4 linked regions of the Homo sapiens genome follow. The protein of the gene in region 2 interacts with the protein of the main gene of each other region in a biochemical or structural test. Each region holds a gene or a part of one and is shown on either strand. Other genes may lie near its edges.

The links.
Region 1: of the proteins of RNF40 (region 2) and ATM, one has a biochemical effect on the other in vitro, tested with the Homo sapiens proteins (one study listed by BioGRID).
Region 3: the proteins of RNF40 (region 2) and UBE2A form a complex in vitro, tested with the Homo sapiens proteins (3 studies listed by BioGRID).
Region 4: the proteins of RNF40 (region 2) and RB1 form a complex in vitro, tested with the Homo sapiens proteins (one study listed by BioGRID).

The regions. Positions count from the first base shown.
Region 1 is NC_000011.10:108,365,822-108,369,618, reverse strand, and holds the end of ATM (serine-protein kinase ATM), read right to left. Parts: 3' UTR 517-3,797; downstream 1-516.
Region 2 is NC_000016.10:30,772,061-30,776,807, reverse strand, and holds the end of RNF40 (E3 ubiquitin-protein ligase BRE1B), read right to left. Parts: intron 4,720-4,747; coding exon 4,618-4,719; intron 2,871-4,617; coding exon 2,694-2,870; 3' UTR 501-2,693; downstream 1-500.
Region 3 is NC_000023.11:119,577,406-119,584,666, reverse strand, and holds the end of UBE2A (ubiquitin-conjugating enzyme E2 A), read right to left. Parts: intron 3,161-7,261; coding exon 3,071-3,160; intron 2,080-3,070; coding exon 1,991-2,079; intron 1,541-1,990; coding exon 1,412-1,540; 3' UTR 244-1,411; downstream 1-243. UniProt on the Homo sapiens protein: E2 ubiquitin-conjugating enzyme that accepts ubiquitin from the ubiquitin-activating enzyme E1 and transfers it to a E3 ubiquitin-protein ligase. In vitro catalyzes 'Lys-11', as well as 'Lys-48'-linked polyubiquitination.
Region 4 is NC_000013.11:48,474,535-48,481,795, forward strand, and holds part of RB1 (retinoblastoma-associated protein), read left to right. Parts: intron 1-1,915; exon of another isoform or gene 1,916-1,988; intron 1,989-2,166; coding exon 2,167-2,309; intron 2,310-2,820; coding exon 2,821-2,870; intron 2,871-5,444; coding exon of another isoform or gene 5,445-5,463; coding exon 5,464-5,537; 3' UTR 5,538-7,261. UniProt on the Homo sapiens protein: Tumor suppressor that is a key regulator of the G1/S transition of the cell cycle. The hypophosphorylated form binds transcription regulators of the E2F family, preventing transcription of E2F-responsive genes.

The sequences.
Region 1 (3,797 bases), on a different chromosome or scaffold from region 2:
CTCCTTACTTACCAAATTCTGAGTCATTATAATCTTTGTGGAAACTTTGACTCCACTATATTTATGCAAAATGCATTTTGTTAAAATCTAGGCAAAAGAGACTAAAACTCCAGAGGACTGAATTTATTTTAAAAATATGATAAACAGGTAAAAAACTTTGCATTTAGGATACCAGGATCTTTGCACTTGTCATATTCTAGTACAGATCTTTTAGGCTAGAAATGTCAACTAGATCACTTTCTAGGCCCAAAGAAAGAACATTCATATTTGCCTTTTCGTCAGGAGGCGACTAAGAAACACTACTAGGATATTTAGACTGAGATGCAGCATTATCAGACTGGTTGTGCAATAGGCTCCCCGGTTCACACTGCGTGGTCAGTTGCCTATCCTCCTCAGATTGGGAGCTTTATATAGGCAGACTATGCCTGCCTTGCTCACTGCTTTCTCCTTAGAACGAGTCCCATGCCTGGCACACAGAACACACAAATATTTGAATAAAGTGAATGAGTCTTAGTATATGCTTTTAGAATTATTTATTCAAAAACACTTTATAATAAATTCAGGTAACAGTAAAGTAATACATTCAATAGTACTAAAATCTATAGAAAATAGATAATTTCATTAAGGTGCAATTAAAATACTTGAAATTGGGACACATCTCTATATTTCAAACCAATATACTGGCTTTCTTTTTAAAAGACTATTCTAGTCTTTACGCTGTCCAAAGTTTTTCCTCTTTGCTTTTATTTGCTTTAGACCATATTTAAATTTTTAGCATTCCTAAGTGCATACATTTTAGGCATATACTATAATGACCAAGAGTTTGTGAACCTACTGATTAGGTAAACACTTTGGGGAGGTATGACCTGCACAAAGTAGGGTGGGAAAGCTATTATCTCCCTTAATCTGGACACAACTGTTCAAGCAGTCTATAATTTATTAGCTTCTCTGATAGCTTCACTATTTGGTTTTCATTGACCTTTTGAGCAACTGACTGGCAAACCCCAGATTCTTTTCGCCTGAAATCTTTTCAAGTTAGATACTGTCCATATTACACTTGTACTTATAATTTACTATCTTCTTGCCTTGGACAACTTATTTCTCCAAATTCTGATTTCTCCAGCAGTGTATTGGGATAGTATCACTAATCTTGCAAAGTAAAGATCAGAAATGCTGTACATAATATGGGTCAGTGACTTAGCATACAACAACTATTCTATGATTAATATTTTCAAAATCTAACTACTCCTCATTTGTCCTTGGCAGTTTTCTATCTTAGTCATTTGCAGAAAGAGTTCCAGCTTGCCAAAACCTTTTTTTTTTTTTTTTTGAGGCAGAGTCTTGCTCTGTCGCCAAGGCTGGAATACAATGGCAACCCTGTCTCTACTAAAATTACAAAAAAAAAATCTTTTATAATCTTAATTCTGTCATCTGTGAATTAGTTATTTCTCCTAGGCTTGTGATCTGTATGTAAATTTGATAAACTTTTCAAAGCCATTGATTAGAATACTTGAACAGAACAGGAGCCTCATAGCATACCATGCAAGGCTAAAGAGTAGATTAATGATGTTATTCAAAGCTCTCTGGATGCAACAACTAGCAAGAATTAGCTACAAATTCATTTATCTATACTATTATCTAGTTGATAATTTCTAATTTCACCCATGAAGATTTCAGGGCTTTCTTAAAGACATTTTAAGTTTACTGCATTTCCTTGATTTACTATAGTAATAAAACTACCAATATATACCAAATATTCATTTAGGCAGCTTGTAAGAAAAAGATACACCAAGGTAAGTTTGTAATTTGAAATGCAAAGTAATATTCTGAACAGTTCTCCAGAAGTCAAACCAAGAAATTTATAGTCCAAAAAGTTCTGGAGATTGGTTTTAGGGGAGGGGAAGGTGAGGAGATCAAATATGAATGAGTGCCTGCCATTGGCAATAAAAAGAAATGCCAACTCTTCATAAGAAAAAAATTTATATAACCTTCAAGGTCCAAATACGAGGAGAAAGCTCAATCACCCATTTGTTAATCTCCGCAGCTGGGATGAACATTTTCCTAAGGATGGAGAAGAGATTATACTCACTAATACACGAGTCAGTAGTTTTACTTTCAGGTGGCTTTTTATCTGATGTTTATCTTATATGATGACAGCTGGGGGACAGAGAAATGTTCCACTTCTACCTATGTATCAAACTAGATACCTAAGCCCTTCCCTTCCAACAGAACACAGAGAAATGCTGGATAAAATGTAGAAAACATTCTTTTAAATACATAGCAGAACTTACAAGAAAGGGGAAATCCTTACGGTCAAAAATGAGGGGAATGAGGCCGGGCGCGGTGGCTCACACCTGTAATCCCAGCACTTTGGGAGGCCGAGGAGGGTGGATCACGAGGTCAAGCGATCGAGACCATCCTGGCTAACACGGTGAAACTCCGTCTCTAATAAAAATACAAAAAATTAGCCGGGCGTGTTGGCACACGCCTGTAGTCCCAGCTACTCGGGAGGCTGAGGCAGGAGAATTGCTTGAACCCAGGAGGCAGAGGTTTCAGTGAGCTGAGATCATGCCACTGCACTCCAGCCTGGGTGACAGAGCAAGACTCTGTCTCAGAAAAAAATGAGGGGAATGAAAAACCAGAGAGGTGAATATGTGAGCTGATGCTGTAGCTGTCCTGGAACAATTTGCCAGTCTCATTAACCCACGGCTTTTAGCTTAGACATCTATATGGGGAGCAAAGAACCCAGGGCTTGCCAAAGGCAGGCAGTGGGAATTAAATGTACCTCCTTCCACCCCTGCCATAAAGGTGGGACACATGGAAGCTTATACTCTCAGTGAAAAAGGCATCAATCAAATATTCTGCCCACTAGCACAAGGAGATGAGGAGGAAGTGTGTTTGCCTTGGCCTGGGAAATCTCCTATCAGTATTTATGCTACACTTCAGGTATGGAAACCCTAAAGCCAAGAAATTAAAATAAGAATGGGCTTGTGTGCAGCAACAGCCCTGGGAATATGACATAAACAGACACTCAAGATTCCCATAGATAAAGCCTTGCTGAAAATAAACTCACTTTTCAAAAAGACAAAACTGGATGAACAGCCTATCAAATACAAAAATCAACAGATATAAACAGCAGGAACTAAATTTAATAGAACTATTACAGTGTCTATCAAGTACAGACATTTAAAATAATTAGTGACATAAAAAACATTAAAAAAACATTAAAAATGACATCAAGAAACAGAGATCTGAAAAATGATGCATAATTAGAAATGAAAAACAATTTCTGAAAGAAGAAGCCCAATGGATAGGGTAAAAGAGATTATATACATCTGACAAGAGAATTCATGAACTAGAAGGCAATCTATGAAGTTATCACAGAAAGATAACATACATGGACAGTACAGAAGGGCTTAAAAGATAAAGAGAATAGAATGAGAAGTTTTAATACACACTTAAAAAAATAGTAACTACACTAACTGTGTCTTTGAAATTTGTTCTCCATAACAACTTCATTATTTAGTAACACTGAGTGATCTTACTAGGAAAAATCCAAATACGTTTCTGTTTTTTTTTTTTTTTTTTTGAGATGGAGTTTCGCTCTTGTCACCCAGGCTGGAGTGCAATGGCATGATTTTGGCCCACAGCAACCTTCACCTCCCAGGTTCAAGAGATTCTCCTGCCTCAGCCTCTCGAGTAGCTGGGATTACAGGTGCCCGCCACCATGCTCGGCTAATTTTTGTATTTTTAGTAGAGACAGGGTTTCACCATACTGGCCAGGCTGGTCTCTTGGC
Region 2 (4,747 bases):
CAGGGTACCGCTGCCACTGGGACCACTAGGGGTGGTAAGCAGTCAAAAAATTAAGGCAAATCCTCCCGGCACCGGAGCCTCATGGGAAATGTTTATTAAGAGTTTGGTTCCTGGCCGGACACAGTGGCTCACGCCTGTAATCCCAGCACTTTGGGAGGCCGAGGCAGGCAGATCATGATGTCAGGAGTTTGAGACCAGCCTGACCAACATGGTGAAACCCTGTCTCTAAAAATACAAAAATTAGCTGGGCGCAGTGGTGCACGCCTGCAGTCCCAGCTACTCGGGAGACTGAGGCAGGAGAATCGCTTGAACCCGGGAAGTAGAGGTTGCAGTGAGCCGAGATCGTGCCACTGCACTCCAGCCTGGGAGACAGAGTGAGACTCCGTCTCAAAAAAAAAAAAAAAAAAAAAAGGTTTGGTTCCTGCCACCACATCAGTGGTTGCTGCCTCACTGACATTGTGGGATCTTCACCCCGTTCCCTTGGACTTGACCTTGAAAAAGTGGTTTGATGCCGACTTTTATTAGGTATGAAGACCCACGAGGAGAGTTTTGCCCCTCTGATAAGGAGACCGGGTGGCCTTTAGCGCAGATATCTAGAGAGACGATGCGGAATTACTTGGCATCTACTCAAGAGCCCAGGCGAAGGCTACTCCTGGAAGGGGACCGCGCTTACGGAGGCCTGGCTGACCTCCACCCGTGACCGGTGCGGCGCTCCTGAGACTGGCGCTCTCCAGGGGCGAAGGTGGCCGCGTCTCTATGATGCAATATCCTGCGTTTTTCCCACCCTCGCACCGCTGCCCCAGGCCATCGGCACTTTCTCTGCGGCCCGATGTCCTCCCCTGCCGCGGCCCGCGCTTCCACCAGCGTGCCCGCCGCCGCCGGCCCTACGCCCGAGGTCACCGTGGCGGCCCGCGTCTCCTTCTCCAGTTCGTCCTGGTCCAGCAGCGGCGGCCCCGCTTAAGTCCCGGGCGCCAATAGGGTCCGAAGGCGCCACCGCTGAGACGCACGCGGCCCCTGCCGTGGCCATAGCACTGTCGCCAGCGCCTGAACCAACACCGCTCCGCACCGGCTCTGGCGCCAGCCCCAGTCCTGCCTCGGTGAAGGATCCGCCCGGGGCGCCTGCAGCGCGCTGAGCCCAGGGGCGCCGCTCGGTACACGCCGCACCGCTCCCGAGGCCGATTGCAACGAGGGAAGTCACCCAGCTGAGGTGTCCCGATCTGTGCATTCGAGTGGTGTGGGGGTGAAGCCGCTGAGAAGCGGTCCGCAGGATCCAGTTCAGGCCGGCCTTTGGCCAGCGCAACCGGGAAACTAGCTCTCTCTCCGAGAACCTCCTAACCATGTGCGGACCAGGAACTACACTTCCCAGGATGCAGCCCGAGGAGTCCCGGCATCCCCCGGCCATGACAGCCAAGGACGTGGTCAGACCGGGGTCGGTGGGAGCAGGACAGGCGGCTCCGCGACGACCACCACGCTCTCCCCTTCAGGCCCAGTCCGGGATCCCTGCCGGCCGTTAAGTCTGAGCCCTCCCAGGCTCACACCAAGCCAGCAAAGTGCTGCTCAGCTGCTGCAGCTAAAATCGGGGGACTACATTTGGGGTGCGCGGCCTGGCTACTCTGGCTGCAGGCCGAGGGTTGAACGTTTATTCATCACAATTAACAGCCTATACAAGCATCTCTAGAACAGAGGCTGTGGGTCCAAACGGGTCCCTGCAGCTCCAACCCTCTGGCCTCTCCGGGCACTGCCCTCACAGCCGATGGAGCATGGCTGGGCAGGCAGACAGGACACAGGCTCAGTCACAGGGTGTCAGGGGGAAGCTCTTCTAGCTGGAATGATTGGAAGTTGGCCCAGCGGCTGGGGCTGGTCTGTCCCTTCCCCTCCTGGGAAGTTCCACCTCCACTGTAGTTAAGGCCACCAGGATGAAAGCAGGGTTAGGTCCAGGGACCCAGTAGAGCCTTGGGATGCATGAGGTGGGGGTAAATGGGCTTGGCAGAGAAATGGAGATTGGGAAGGGGCCTGATTAGAATAGAAACTGATGATGTTGGTTCAGCACCTGCAAGATGAGGAAGGTGACTGCAGCAACCTTAGAGCTTCCCAAAGGAAGCAAGTGATGCCCCCATCTGCCAAGAGGGTACCTCCTTCAGCCCTTGGCACAAGAGCCAGACCAAGGTGTCCAGGGAACTCCACAGGACAGAAGCCCTGCCGAGGTTAGGGGGATGGTGGGTGAAGGAAAGTCTTCCTGGGGCCTGCAGCCCAGTCTCAAACAAGGAACAAGGACATGGCTCACTGGTCCTCATTTGTGAGCCAGTAGGCAGGGAGCGAGCCTTCTCTAGGGTAGATCACAGCCTGGGGAATTTTCCTTAGGGTTAGGATGCATCCACGGAGACAGACAGGTTAGGGCCAGTTTCCGGGAAGCTCAGTCAAGTGCTCTGGGCTCCTCAGGCCTCTCAGGCAGACCTTTTCTGTAGGGCAGTGCCCCCTAGGCTGCAGCTCTGACCTTTAGGAAAAGATGGAACGAAGCTTGGCTGATCCCATGCCCACTAGCATGCACCAGGGTCCCCAAACCAACTAGATGGGCAGGGGCTGGGCCCATGGGGTCCGGAATGGAGGGTGGGGCCACTAGACCTGGGGTGGGGAGGAGATGGGGGCACAGCCCCCAGGGTCCATGGTGTTCCAGAGTCCCCTGAGTTTCAGGTTCAGCTGATGTAGATACGATGGAAGTCGTGGGCACCAAAGGCCGCGTTGCACTTGGGGCACTTCCTCTGGCGGGCCTCATAGCGGCCCCGCACGCACTCGAAGCAGAAAACGTGGAAGCACTTGGTAAGGACTGCATCCTTCTTGCGGGTGTTACAGCAGGGGCAGGTCAACCGCGCCTGGGCCAGGCAAAGGCATCAGCTTGGGAACAACTCTGACAGTGCCCAGACCCCAAGCTGACAGCAGGAGGAGTCCAGGCCAAGCCCACCACACTGGAGACTGCACCTCATCCTCCCATAACCCTGGAGGTAAGGACGAGCACTCTATGAATGAGCAAACTGAGGTGCAGAGGCCAAGGTCTCAACACTAGAAATCAGCAGAGTCCGGATTCATCACTGGGCAGTGATGGCTATCATGTGTCCCCTCAAAAGGACAAGGACCCACAGGCCCAGCCTGGACTCTGCCTTGGGGCTTCATCTCCTGCCCCACTGGCCGCCTCTGGTGAAATCCCAATCTTGTCTACCTCTTCACCTGCACTTGCTAAGTCACAGCTGGAATGGCAATGCAACTAGAAATCTGTTCTCTCTACCCTCAACTGGGCCCAGCCTCGACACTGGCCAGAGACCCTGCCGTGGGTCCCTTCTTAGCCTGAGACCTCTCTTCCGCCACCAGGAGGGTCTCACCTCCAACTCCAGACATGGATTGACTCAACTCAGCATCCCCCAACAGTGCTCCTCCAGCCTGCTAAAATCCCAGCCCAGCCTGCCGCCTCAGCAGCCTCCCTGCCATCACTCCTGTCTCCCAGGACCCTACACACCAGCACTGAACAGGCTCCCAAGCCTGCCTCTACCCCATGGCTGCCTCCAGCTGCCTCTGCCCTTCAAGGCTCAACTGCTTCCAAGGGATGACCAAGTCATATGTGGCTTCCACCTCTGCCTCTACTGACATTCCCCAAGCCTGTTCTCCAGCCCGGCCCTTTTGCCTTGAGCACCTTCCCAGCCTCCCAAAGGGGTCCCACAGGCACCTTCTCAGCATCCTTTGACACCATCCCATAGAACCTGCTCCCCCGCAGGCCTCCTAACCCCCTAAATGGTACTAACTATCCACCTAGTTTCTCAAACCAGGAAACCAGGAGTCCTCCAAGTGTTCCCTTTCCCTCACTCCATGCATTCGATCCACCCCCGAGTCCAAGCAATTCTGCCTCTGAAATGTCTCCTGAACCCATCTACTCTGGTTTCTGCCTCAGTGACTGCAATACCTTAACAATTTCCCTGCCTCCAGTCTACCTCTTCCAGCCCAAAACCAACAACAAATCTAACCACATCACTCTCCTGTTTAAAACCCTTTGAGGTCTCAACCTGGCGTACCGCACTCTTCAGGAGGTGACACGGCCCAACCTCTCCACATTGGCTCCTCTGATTACAACCTCCGGTGCTGTCCCAGCAACCCCTCCGCTCAAGCGTCCACATCTGCTGTTCCCTTTGCCTAAAGCTACTCACTCCCGTTCCTCACAGCCACGTCTGGCCTATTCTTCAGGTCTGCTGTGGTGACATTCACTCCAGGAAGCCTGCTGACCCCAGGGCCAGGGGAAGGGCCTCCCCTGAGTCCCCTCAGCCCCTCTGGCCTCTGCCATCATATTACACATCTGGGATGAGAGAATTACTTGGCTGCCTCCTCCCCTGACTGTCAGTTTCAAGAAGTCAGAGACCAGGGCCAGTTCCTAGCCTCCCAACCCACACCCAGCCAAGCACTGTGCCTGGCTCACAGTACATGTACAGCAAACAGCATTTGACTCTGTGACCACTGTGCTGCCCACTTTCTGCTGCCCTACATTACTTCCAGGGTCCCCAGACTCTCCACTAGTCTCAGCAATCCTGCATCTACAATTCTCAGGTGGATAGGGCACAACTTGGCCCACAGCCCCACCTTGTACTCCTTGATCTCCTCCTGGAGGATTTCGTCGGCATCTGCGTAGACCTCCACCTTCCTCTGCTTTTCCAGCTTGCGCCGCAGCCGTGAGATGTCCTCCTGGGGCAGGAGAGGCCTGGCTAAGGGC
Region 3 (7,261 bases), on a different chromosome or scaffold from region 2:
AACCACTGTGCCCGGCAACATATTCTGTTAATATATTTAAAAAGCATTACCACTTATGACTGGAAAGAAAAAAAAAGTTCTCTCCAGAAGTATCTGTCTTGTCTTTTCCCCTCCCAGAATGAGTATTTTTGCTTTTACCTTAATGTTTGAGGGGGGAAATGAGTACATATGAGATCCCAATAAGAAACCAATACAAAAAGTTTATACTGAGCTAAAAAAAAAAAAAAAAAGATACCTTGACTATGAAATTTTAAGGTTATTTTTATTTACAACTTTTGAAAAATGTACATTTTTTTTTACATGGGTTACTTGTGCAAAGTTAGATTTGGAAGTGATAAATGCATAAAAGGTGACAATAGAACATTAGACAAAACATTTACAAGCCTTGTCCCATACTGCTACTTAAAGGTACTATATATCTAAAAGTATAAATATCCAAAAAAAGATCGCAGACATTGGCTTTAAGGTTCTCAGATGCTGAAAGGGAAGAAATTAAAGCATGCAGCAATAACTCAGGATTTGAGTGGAAAATAGTTTGCCACAGATATGCTATGCTCCCTTCCTTGAATTCATTAAAACTCTAAAATAAAGATGGACAATTGAGTTTATTCACTTAGGGCAGCACTGATCCTTTAAAAAGATTAAAGGAGCTCCAACTTTCCCTAGCTCAAAAACTCACGATTGTTTCCATTCCTCTGCTCCCACACCTCTTTTAAAAAGCAAAAACCCAGAAGACCAATAATTCTGAAACTTGGCATGAGTGTGCCCAGTCAGCAGCTTGCAAAGAGAGGATGTGTCAGTTACTACAATTGCTGTACTCCTTTAGCTGAGTCCTTCAACTTTCTCCTTCTTGCCAGTAAATACTACGTTGTAATTCATATGACTGAGATCTTAGTATCACAGGATTTTTAGCTCCCATGCCTCCTTCAAAATTGTTTACATGGATTTGTTTCTATTCTCTGTAGGCCATATTCCAAACACATTCACTTCTAAATCCAACACAAGTGAAGGACCAGCCAGGATGAAACACTTCAGCAATCATTTTGTTAAAAATAACATCCTGGTCATCAAGCTAAGCATAAGCACCTCTTGTATAACAATTCATCTTAAAAGCTTAAAGTACAATAATAAAAATAACTGCCTGAAAACTGGAAATGAAATACAACAGAAAAACTGAAGCATTAGTAATTTTTGCAAGTAACCCAGGTACAGTACATTTGATTTCATAGAGGGTGTTTTCTGATGTTTAAGGAGAGGGTAGAAGGGGTAGGAAAACTTGGCAAGGAAGATGGAAACAGCACAACAGTTATTTTGCTTTTAATAAAGTAAATGTAATGACAGGAGTAGGGAGGTGACAAACACATCAATATATATTTTTCTTATGGCCAGCTTCTTTAAACTGTACCCGGGGTCAACAATCACGCCAGCTTTGTTCTACTATTGCAGAAACACGCTTTTCATATTCCCGTTTGTTCTCCTGGTACAGCTGAGCAGCCTGGCTGTTTGCTGGACTATTGGGATTGGGTTCATCCAACAGAGACTAAAGAGACAATTTTTAAAATGTCAGTTCCTTAATGCAAAACAACTATTTTATAAGGTAGTGACACTCAATTGAATTGTCCTAAGTACAGCTACATTTCTTGTCTTTAGCATACAAACCCAGAGTTATGTGAATCTGCTAGTAGCTAGGAAAATATATGCGGCTTTTTTTTTTTTTAAGGGAGAAGAGTCTCACTATGTTGCCCAGGCTGGTCTCAAACTCCTGAACTCAAGCAATCCTCCCACCTTGGCCTGCCAAAGTGCTGAGGTTACAGGTGTGAGCGACTGTACCCAGCTGACTTGGGTCTTAATGGTCTACTTTTCATCTATAAAACAAACAAGCTTTGACCAAAAATAAAAAGATCTATTACATTATGACTTTCAAAAACAATTCAATTGCTAATATAAACATATTAAAAGTTATAGTTCGTCACATTAAGGAAAAATTCACCTGTATGGATGTTAGAATGGAAGACACATCATAGGTTGGACTCCAACGGTTCTGAAGTATGTCCAGACATATACTACCATCTGCATAGACTAAGAACAAAGAAGTAGGTACATTAAACGTAACAAGACCACTAAGGTTTTAACATTATAGACAAAACAAAAATAGTCAAGAATACTTTGCTTTTGAAGTTTAAAGATTCCTATGTTGCTTCCCAGTTAACTGCCTAAAAAGATAAGTCATAACCACCACTAGTGAAATAATCAGGATGATCAGAGAATGTCAGATGTGATCAGTATAAAACTGGAAGATATTTAGTGTTCATCCTTTGGAAAAGGCTGCCCTATTATCCAGGAAATCAGAAACATTTTTGAACAGGGTCCCTAGCTATCCACAGACATGTGGGAAATTCATTCCACCAAATTTGTAGGCTGTATCCCCTATCTGAAATAACAAAAGATCACTCAGAGTTCACAAGATTTCATTTTGGCATAAAGATAAACATATCTGATACCCTGAAAAATACTTCATTAACCTAAATAAAAGGCAAGCTGTTCTAGGCTTACTACTATTTTAAAAAGTGCAAAGTGGTTAAGTTAGAATCACCTGTGGTGCTTTTCTGACAATACCGTATGCCTGGCCTTCAACAACAGAATCCTATTCATTAGGTTTGGAGTGGGGCGAAGGCATCTGTGTTTTTAAAATGTTCCACAGTAATTCTGATATGCGTCCAATGAAAACTACTTTTCTAAACGCTAGTGAAAATAATTACAACACAAGACTATCCCAATCTGGCCTAGCATTAAAAGGAAACCTCAAGAGCATCCTTCATTTTGTTTAATAAGTAAATGACAAAGGTCATCAAAATCAGGAGGCTCCCAGACTCCAAGCAAAGGGAAAATACCTCCACTGCTTCAGTTCTAGGACAAGACAGCCACAGACAACCAAGAACAAGTTCAGCTTTCAAGAAGCAGCAAGCTGCCTAAACAAATACTCAGGCACCACAAAATACACAGGAAATGTGGAATACTCCATAATAAACACTATAGTAGTTTAAAACACTGTACTAAAAGTGATACTTGCCATTTGGATGGAACATCTTAGAGACAAATCTAACTGTAGGTGGTTTATTTGGATATTCTTCAGTGAATTCTATTGTAAGTTTAAATGTTCCTGTGGTTAGAAAAGAAAGATTTAAGAAAATGTATTTATCACTTTGTTCAGTAGTACTTTGTTTTTAATGCTATGTGGGTTTTTCCAAGTATTAAATAATGCAAAGATACAGGGTAGAGAGGAAAGGCCAGGTAAGAAATACATCTCTAGGAATTGCTCTAAGAACTACTCAAATGTGATTTTTTGTTTTGCCATTATTTTCCCCCAAACTTGGAGACAGCCATCATAAACACAAAATTACTGCTTACAAGATTTTAGCCACTGTACATTTTGAAAACATCCTTAAGAAACTGGGCCCAAAATTTGGCCTTCTTCCTTTAGAAGACCAAAAGACCTCAAAGGCCTATGTTAGTCAGCTGCCATCTTAAACGCTCCAGTGATTTTTAGACAGACTAGAAAGAATGAAAGCACAATGGTTCAAAAACCAATGCCAGAATACAAATCCATAATCAAGTTATTTTTAAAATAGAAGGGAATAAGTATAAAAGTGTTCATACTGGTTCCTTTTCATGTCATAGTGACCCTATAATGAAAACTTAATTGAATTTAAGCCAGGAAAAACTTCATAGTCCCTCTCAGAAACCCTTAAGTATGGCTCATAAGGTACTTCACTATAAAATCAACTCAATTATTCACACATATGGAGGGAATTAATGGCAGAAATAATTTTAAAATCACATTTGGTTTAGATTGCATTCATGTTTCCAGCAAATTTATTTTTCTAATGTTTATGCTACTATTGAAATGAAATTATTTTTCTTAAATATATGTCAACCTAAGGTAGCAGGAGGCCCTAAAGCATAGTAGGTTATAAACTTACTTACAAGGCATGGACAAACTGGATCTCATTCAAGAATTGTTAAGATGTGATATGAAGAGATTATGTCCTTTAAAATATTATTTTCAATTGTTTGTTGAATAAATTGAAGAACACAATTGAGCAATGTTTTTTCCTGACTGAAATCTGTTCAAGTAAACTTAGAAGAATCAGTTACTATATGGTATAAGGTGATGCATGTTCCACTATATTACTCTGGTCCATTTAACAAATTATTCTAAAACAACAGACCATACTTCAGTGTATTTCTTACTGGTTCCTTCAGAGTTAGCAATTTATTTCCTTTTTGTTCTCATTAAAAGGTTTATCACTGCTTAAGAAAGAGAGAAGACTATAATCATTCTAGGACTAGATCTGTGACAAAACAGTATCAAAAAGTTTGTTTTTAGCAAGCTCATTGGAAACAATTTGCTAACAAAGCTGCCCTTACTATGAACAAGTGTCTCAAAGCTTCAAAATAATATAAAATGCAACATACAGAGACATTATATTCCTCAAATTATTGTTACTCCCTATTTTCTTTTCAAAGCCAGACCTGAAGATACTATGTATTATAACTAAGAAAGTAAAATCTTATGGAATGGACAAACATATGCCCATTAGAAGTATGGAAGTATGTCCATCAGAACATACTTCACCTTTATCACCACCTGGTCATAAATCTTCCTCTTTCTGAGGAAGAAAGCACAGTTCTTCCTTTTCAGTATTTATTGACACTATAATATGCAAGAAAAAGTGGGAATGTGTTAGAGTTCAAAACTTTGAGTTTCCTTATGTATTATGATCTCAAGTGTAAACACATTTGGATCAATGTTGCAATCTGACTAAATTATGGGTAAGAGACACTGCTCTAAAACTGGGCAGATGTAATAGCACATGGAGATCCCAGCTACTTCAAAACCATCACTAAATATGGTATCTAAAGGTAGTAAAGCAAGACATAGGGAAGCCATAAGCAAAAACAGTAAAACACACTGCTAAGAGCATGAGCTCTGCAGTCAGACAGGTCTGGGCCCAAGTCCTTGCTTTGGTACTTACTAGCTGTGAGACTTTGGGGAAGGTGTTCTCCTTGACTAAACCTTAAGTTCCTCATTTGTAAAATGAGATTAATCATAGTACCCACCATATAGCATTGTTGTGAGGTTTAAATGAGAGGAATATGCATAGTTCCACAAAGTTAAGTGCTCCAAAACCATGAGCAACTATTTTTGCTATAATAATTCTAAAGTTTCACATCTCTAGACTCAGCTGAAGGAGGCAAAACCCAAAAATCAGAACTATCAGTAAGAAATATACAATTAAGGCATTCAGATATTAAACAGTACTTTTAGGTCTACATCAAACACTCACAGTTCAAAGCAAGTTGAGTACCTATATTGGTGGCTCACAAGTTCCTTGACTTGAGCTTTCTGCATACACTTGCCCAGAAGTTCAACTAAGTGATTACCTAGCTACCAAAGAAGTTAATCGCAAGTCTTTTAAAACAGTTCACTTAATATCTTGAGAAGTGAAGCAACCTATTTATGTCTACTTGAATATAAATTAAGACAACCCAAATCTTATTCAAGGTACACATTAAAAAGAGGGTAAAAACTTCACACTTTTAGTCACACTAATCAGAACCTGTTTAGTATAACCTTCAATGTAATTTCTAAGCTCTAAAACAAATGTTAAGGGAATTTAAAATCCCAGAATTAGTATTATGCAGTCTTGAGACTACAGCTTACCCTCTGAATATTTAGAAGGCTAGGCTTTAAAATAACTGAAAATTTAAGCCTCACCATTGTTGTACATAATGTATACTAATTTTGTTCATCTTCCCGAGGAGGCTAAGACATCGTAAGGAAAGTATCAATTAATCCATCTATACAGGGAGACCACCAAAATTACATAAACGTGTTAAGTGACTGGTGTATGGCAATAAGGAGTGATATGGTTGAACTAGAGGGGGTATATGTTCTGCCTAAAGACACTCACAAAGTCAAGTTTTGGAAAATACTGTGTTGGCCAAAGAAAACACACCTGCAGGTGTTTTCTGCCATTTGGCCACCAGTTTGTGACCCCTGAGAAGAAAGCAAAATACATATAACTTCAAAATTATTTTTGATGACTGAAAATCGATTTTTCAAGTAATATCCAAAACTCTTCATCATAGGATTTATTTATATTTAAAACACTCTTAGTGGACTTTAGAGATTCATTTTGAAAAAGATTTTATGACTCAGAAACATTTCCAAAAATTAAAAAAAAATAAAAACGATTTATACCCCAATTCTAAAGAACACATCTATTATGAAAAGCAAATACCAGTACCTTACCATGTCTATTAACAATTTTTAGATTATGTGATGAAGATTATATTCCATAACCTTTGTATTTAGCATGTATACCAAGATATTCTGATGAGGAAGCATTTCTCCCCAATGTTTTGGTAGTGTAAGCTCTTGAGAATATATTCCTCTTACTTCGAGTGTGTGAAGTTAAACCAAAATACCCTTAAGTGTTGCTTGTCTTAAGATTTCATCACTCTAACTAGGACCTGGTTGTTCCAGAAACTTCCATAACGAACGGTTTACAACAAAGAAGCAAAAGTAGTTTTGGGGTTCTTAATTAATAACATAATACATTGGAAACAGCAAAATCAACTATGCCACTTATCCCTAATCAGTCTTTTCTCTAACTGTAAATTCCCCAACTATAAATAAAGGGTATTCAAAAAATGGTTAAGGCTGGGCACGGCTGCTCATGCCTGTAATCATAGCACTTTGGGAGGCCGAGGTGGGCGGATCACCTCAGGTCAGGAGTTCGAGACCAGCCTGCCCAACATAGTGAAACCCCCTCTTTACTAAAAAATACAAAAATTAGCTGGGCATGGTGGTAGGTGCCTGCAATCCCAGCTACTTGGGAGGCTGAGGCAGAAGAATTGCTTGAACCTGGGAGGCAGAGGCTGCAGTGAGCTGAGCTCGTGCCACTGCACTCCAGCCTGGGTGACAAGAGCAAAACTCCATCTCAAAAAAAAAAAAAAAAAAAAAAGCTAAAATTTTTTTTGTGGGGGAACCACAGGCCACAGTGTTCCAGACACCTGAGGAAGCATCCATCGGTAGCAGACTGTTCAACAGAACAAATCAGCCTGAGTAATTCCTTTCAGTAATGCTAGGATGGAGATACACATCATCAAAAATAGAACCAGTAATGTCAAAGGTGACAGTCCTGGTAGATAATGGACTCTGTAAGTACCTTTTCAATTCATACCACTTAAGAGA
Region 4 (7,261 bases), on a different chromosome or scaffold from region 2:
TGAAATGAGATACTCCAAAATGTAAGCCCGATATCCAAATGTCACCAGCCTGTCCCTGCCTACTGGTCTCCTTCCATACATATGCACTTTTTGCTTGTCCTTCCTCTCAGACTTCTAGGATATTCTTTTTCTGGTACACTGATTAGGAATTGTTTGCATGAGATCCTGCCTCAGTGAAAGTGGCAGAGCTTCATTCTAGGAGATCCAAGGGAAAGCTTTGCTTTGAAACATTTATTCTAGGCTGCAAATCCACAACCCTAGTTGGCCTTCCATTAAAGTCACTAATTCAGCAGTCCCATATTCAATATGCATTACTGTTAATATGTTGCACCATCTCCATTCCCCTGAGAGCTTATATTTTTAATTTTTAAATTTTTATTTTTAGAGACAGTGTCTCACTCTGTCACCTACTTATTATAACCTCAAACTCCTCGGCCCAAGCAGTCCTCTCACCTTAGCCTCCCAAGTTGCCAGGACTACAGGCATGCACCACCATGTCCAGCTAATTTTTAAATTTTTTGTAGAGACAGGGTTTTCTATGTTGGCCAGATTGGTATTGAACTCCTGGCTTCCACGATACCCCGTCTCAGCCTCCCAAAGAACTGGGATTACAGATGTGAGCCACTGCACCTGGCCAGAGAGCTTATATTCTTATAGGAATGGGAAGACTGCCTATGTTATGTGTTGCTACATAATACATTACCCCCAAACTTAGTGACTTAAAACAAACGCTTATTATCTCCATTTCTGTGGGTCAATAATCTAGGCATGACTTAGCTGGGCCAGAGTTTCTCCAAAGTCTGTGATCAAGGTGTCAGTTGGGCTGGGCCTGCAGTCATCTCAAGGCTCCACTAGAGGAGCATTCACTGGCAGACTTATTCAAATGGCTGTTGGCTGATCCTCGATGGCTATTGGCCCCTCTATTGGTTTCTTGCCCTTGGGCCCCTCCATAGTACTGCTTGCTATTCACAACATGGCAGCTTGCTTTGCCCAGAGCAGGGACTCTGAGGGAGGCAGGGAAATAAAGAGCAAGAGAGAGGTCACAGTCTTATTGTAATCTAATTCTGGAAATGACAGCCCATTACTTTTGGCATATTATTTTGGTTAGAAGCAAGACAACAGTAGATCTAGCCCACACACGAGGGGAGGAGGATCACACAAGGAGGTGAATACCAGGAGGTGGGGTCATTGGGAGCCATCTGAGAGGCTGCCCACCACACTGCCTCAAGTAACTAGGGAGAGGTAAAAGTTTATATGCCAGATGACCAAATATTAAAATGTGTGTTACAAATAGTTCACGATGGGCTCAGCTGTCAGACTTTACAAAGGAGCTATGGGACCTTATAAGGACAGTTGGAACTGGCTAGGTATCACATAGTGGTCTTCAAACATTTTTGCTTGCCATAACCTCTAAAATAATTGGGAAAAAGTTGAATGTACTTCCATATCTTAAAGCTGATAATTTAAAATATTATACATTTAATAGCAGCACGGGATTTAGTTTTTGTTAAATTGTATATGTGCTCCAAATAGATTTACCATCAAAACCTGTTTTGAATTTAATATTGGGAGAATTCGCTAGTTTAATTTTTGGAAAATAAAGTATAATTGGCAAAGCTAATCCTCACTGTTGAATCTATCCGTCAAATCAGATATAATTTCTATCAGAAAGTCTATATGACTTGTCAACATAATACCCATAAAGTGAATCAAAAATTATTATTCATTGAACACATCATCTCTTATCAAATTCTTGTGACCTTCCTTCTGGTTGTATAATAGCCTAAAAAACAAAAAAAGGACAAAAGCAAGTTTCCAGAAAGCTGTTCTGACTTGCCTACTTCTGAAAAGTAGTCCTGTATGGTGGGTTCTGAAAATGAGGAACCAGGACTTGCAGAGTAGGCAGTTGCTGGAGGAAGAATGTGAGCTGCATGGGAAAAGACAGGAGGATTTACAAAGAGTGGGTGTTTAATTGGGGATGGAATTAGGTAGTTATTCTGATTTTTAGATTTTTCATATCTTTTATTTGGTCCAATGAAGCAGAAAATTTAAATGAAGTTATTACCTTTGCCTGATTTTTGACACACCTCAAACTATAACTTGAGGTTGCTAACTATGAAACACTGGCATTTAATGATTTAAAGTAAAGAATTCTGTAATTTGTAGACTTCTGAGAAGTTCCAGAAAATAAATCAGATGGTATGTAACAGCGACCGTGTGCTCAAAAGAAGTGCTGAAGGAAGCAACCCTCCTAAACCACTGAAAAAACTACGCTTTGATATTGAAGGATCAGATGAAGCAGATGGAAGGTAGGAACCAGTTTTGAATGTTTTCCAGTAGCCGAGATGGTCATCTGGGGAATCCAGAGTCTCAGCACTGCTCCTGGCTTATACCAATTTCTTTCATGCCAAGTTTATTTGGAAGTTGTGAGAATGGCTCAAAATAATAGATATGAGTGTAGTGCAAAGTTAAAAACATCTTACAAATTGCATACCAACATTCAGTGAAGATATCTAATAAACCCTGATCTTTTTTACAAAGCTATTGATAAAATTTTGTTATTCTTAACATTAAATTTAAAAATGTTTACTCTTGAAAAATATTAACCACTGTATTTTGTGAGAACCACTGAAAAAATACATAGCATCATAAATTTGTGACATTTATGTTTTAGATGGTTAGTTTTTAAATTTTAAAATTAAAAGCTACTCACTAAAATAATAGCATAAAGTAAGTCATCGAAAGCATCATAGTTACTGGAAATTTGAGTTTTCCATTTATAAATACACATGAAATGTTTTGCATTTTTTTAATCTGCAGTAAACATCTCCCAGGAGAGTCCAAATTTCAGCAGAAACTGGCAGAAATGAGTAAGTACTTTTTTCACCTTGTGTAAATGAAATAAACAATTGTTTACACTGCAAGAAGTCTTTTCGTTATATAAAAGAATGTATAATTTCTTCAGTTGGCAGGTTTGTTTATGCATTTAAAATATAATTCAATCAAGGTTATTTATCTACAAACATTTGTGGATTAAATGTATGATGTAAAATGAAGGTCATTTTTACCCTTTCTATGATCTTTCATGCAGGAAGACTAAGAAGTGAAACATTGCTTGACCACATTCAACACAAATGGCTACAGTTAGAAAATACTTTAGCAGAACTACAAAGAGGAGCTATTTGGGAGTGTTAGATATAGGGAAAAGTTTTATAAACCTAGCATATGTAAACATCATCACCCTTATTTAAGGAATAACCTTTGATTCTACCATTTTTAAACTTTCCTTATTTGCAAATCTTAAAACAATTTCAAACAAAAGTTTCCATTACTGGAAATCAGAATTTTAATAAAGAACACTTATGTCATTTTCCAAGTTATACAGAGTGATATCATGTTAGGGTAAGTGGAATTCTATTCAAAACTACTCTGAGACTAGACAAAAAAAATAATCCAAGGATAGTAGATGGAAAGCACATTAGGAAAGAGATAAATGTTCACTAACTACTATTGGGTTGTCTTAGGTAGTTATGGTAGTGAGTGTAACATTTCCCAGTATCTGCTGCCAGATCCATTGATAGGAAAAGGAACTGGGATTTTGAAAGAAGACAAATATTCAGGAGATAGGTGTTAAAACAATCATTCCTAGGTCACAGGACACACTAATGAGAACAATACCAATTAAAATGAGAGGCTTTCTTTTAATACATCTTTGTAGATACTAACTTTGAAAATAAGATATTTAAAAGGATGCTTTTTTTCTATGTATTTTTTTAAAGTGTAATTAAAACTAAATAACTAAAACAAAATTTTCTAGTTATAAATGAATCTCTTTTTGGATTTTATGTCAACTTACATATTCCTATTTTAACTCTTAAATAGTTGCATCTTTTCCCCTCAGTACATGAAAATAGACAAGAGGCTCATAACCAAAATCAGGCCTTGAAGACATATGGAAACATTTTGGAACCCACAAATATGCACTTAAAAAGGAGCTGAAAGCTGTAAAAACATGTATATTTTCTTAGAGAAGTGTTCAGTTGCTATAGTTAGTACATTTCCCAGTGACACACTTAGCTATGATGGCGAGCTTCCTCTGCCAGGCCAAAGTTCAGGACCTTTGTGCATCTACAAAATTGTGACAAAGCAGGCAGAATTTTAACCCCTGAGGCTAAGGCATTTCTTTAGGATGCTCTTCAGCTTTTCTTAAAGAATTACATTTAGAAAAGATCATCATACAATGCTGGATTGCCCAGAATGGAAGGGCATTCCATTTTTCCAAATGTGCTTCTTTATAAAGAACTCATGCCTACCTCTAAAATCAAGTTAAGAATTTTTAAGAAATTTAATAAGTATCCCGGCTTTGTCTATATTGTAATTCATAATATGCTTTTAACATGGCCATGCCCCGGGTAGGCATGATGGCTTATGTCTGTAATACCAGCACTATGGGAGGGCAAGGTGAGAGGATTGCTTGAGGCCAGGAGTTCAAGACCAGCCTGGGCAACATAGCAAGACCCCATCTTTACAAAAAAATCCAAAAATTAGCCAGGCCTGGTGGCATGTGCCTGTAGTCTTGGCTACTGGAGAGGCTGAGGTGAGAGAATTGCTTGAGCCCAGAAGGTCAAAGCTGTAGTGAGCCATGATCATGCCACTGCACTCCAGCTTGGGCAACAGAGCAAGACCTTGTCTCAAAAAAAAAAAATCCATGCCCAGTTTAAATGAGCTATGATTTGATGTATTTGCAGTACCTGCAAGGCATCTGCAAACATAAGGGAACCTATAGCTTTGTAAAGAATACCACCACTCACTCTGGCAGATTCAGTCTGGGCCAGCCGAGTATTCTAGTCTGCTGAAGTATATGCCAAGCATCAACCACCTCATCTCTAGAATAGTGGCCTACAAAATGGGGCATACCTGAAGTATGCAAAGTCATCTTTTGGGGTACATAAAGTAGAAGTTCTATTTATCTCATTTTAATGTTTGCTTGGGGTATGTGTTTTATAATTTGTACATACATACGTATTTTTGTGGTACAGGCTTGGAAAAAAATTTACTCACAGGGATATATGATTTTTAAAGATTTGGAGACCACTGTTTTTTTGGGGGGTGGGGAGGGAATTTTTTTTTTAATTGATATATCATAGTTATACATATTTTAGGGGTACATGTGATGTTTTGATACGTGTACACAATGTGTAATGATCAAATCAGGGTTATTGGGATATATATCACCTCAAACATTTTTCTTTGCATTGGGAACATTACAATTCTAGCTATTTTGAAATATGCAGTAAATTAACTGTAACTCCCTACGGTACTGTCAAATACTAGAATGAAGACCACTGCTTTTGCAAGGTCCTGAGCGCCATCAGTTTGACATGAGCATAATATATATGGCAGCCACTTGCCAACTTACCCAGTACCATCAATGCTGTTAACAGTTCTTCATCCTTTTTCCAGCTTCTACTCGAACACGAATGCAAAAGCAGAAAATGAATGATAGCATGGATACCTCAAACAAGGAAGAGAAATGAGGATCTCAGGACCTTGGTGGACACTGTGTACACCTCTGGATTCATTGTCTCTCACAGATGTGACTGTATAACTTTCCCAGGTTCTGTTTATGGCCACATTTAATATCTTCAGCTCTTTTTGTGGATATAAAATGTGCAGATGCAATTGTTTGGGTGATTCCTAAGCCACTTGAAATGTTAGTCATTGTTATTTATACAAGATTGAAAATCTTGTGTAAATCCTGCCATTTAAAAAGTTGTAGCAGATTGTTTCCTCTTCCAAAGTAAAATTGCTGTGCTTTATGGATAGTAAGAATGGCCCTAGAGTGGGAGTCCTGATAACCCAGGCCTGTCTGACTACTTTGCCTTCTTTTGTAGCATATAGGTGATGTTTGCTCTTGTTTTTATTAATTTATATGTATATTTTTTTAATTTAACATGAACACCCTTAGAAAATGTGTCCTATCTATCTTCCAAATGCAATTTGATTGACTGCCCATTCACCAAAATTATCCTGAACTCTTCTGCAAAAATGGATATTATTAGAAATTAGAAAAAAATTACTAATTTTACACATTAGATTTTATTTTACTATTGGAATCTGATATACTGTGTGCTTGTTTTATAAAATTTTGCTTTTAATTAAATAAAAGCTGGAAGCAAAGTATAACCATATGATACTATCATACTACTGAAACAGATTTCATACCTCAGAATGTAAAAGAACTTACTGATTATTTTCTTCATCCAACTTATGTTTTTAAATGAGGATTATTGATAGTACTCTTGGTTTTTATACCATTCAGATCACTGAATTTATAAAGTACCCATCTAGTACTTGAAAAAGTAAAGTGTTCTGCCAGATCTTAGGTATAGAGGACCCTAACACAGTATATCCCAAGTGCACTTTCTAATGTTTCTGGGTCCTGAAGAATTAAGATACAAATTAATTTTACTCCATAAACAGACTGTTAATTATAGGAGCCTTAATTTTTTTTTCATAGAGATTTGTCTAATTGCATCTCAAAATTATTCTGCCCTCCTTAATTTGGGAAGGTTTGTGTTTTCTCTGGAATGGTACATGTCTTCCATGTATCTTTTGAACTGGCAATTGTCTATTTATCTTTTATTTTTTTAAGTCAGTATGGTCTAACACTGGCATGTTCAAAGCCACATTATTTCTAGTCCAAAATTACAAGTAATCAAGGGTCATTATGGGTTAGGCATTAATGTTTCTATCTGATTTTGTGCAAAAGCTTCAAATTAAAACAGCTGCATTAGAAAAAGAGGCGCTTCTCCCCTCCCCTACACCTAAAGGTGTATTTAAACTATCTTGTGTGATTAACTTATTTAGAGATGCTGTAACTTAAAATAGGGGATATTTAAGGTAGCTTCAGCTAGCTTTTAGGAAAATCACTTTGTCTAACTCAGAATTATTTTTAAAAAGAAATCTGGTCTTGTTAGAAAACAAAATTTTATTTTGTGCTCATTTAAGTTTCAAACTTACTATTTTGACAGTTATTTTGATAACAATGACACTAGAAAACTTGACTCCATTTCATCATTGTTTCTGCATGAATATCATACAAATCAGTTAGTTTTTAGGTCAAGGGCTTACTATTTCTGGGTCTTTTGCTACTAAGTTCACATTAGAATTAGTGCCAGAATTTTAGGAACTTCAGAGATCGTGTATTGAGATTTCTTAAATAATGCTTCAGATATTATTGCTTTATTGCTTTTTTGTA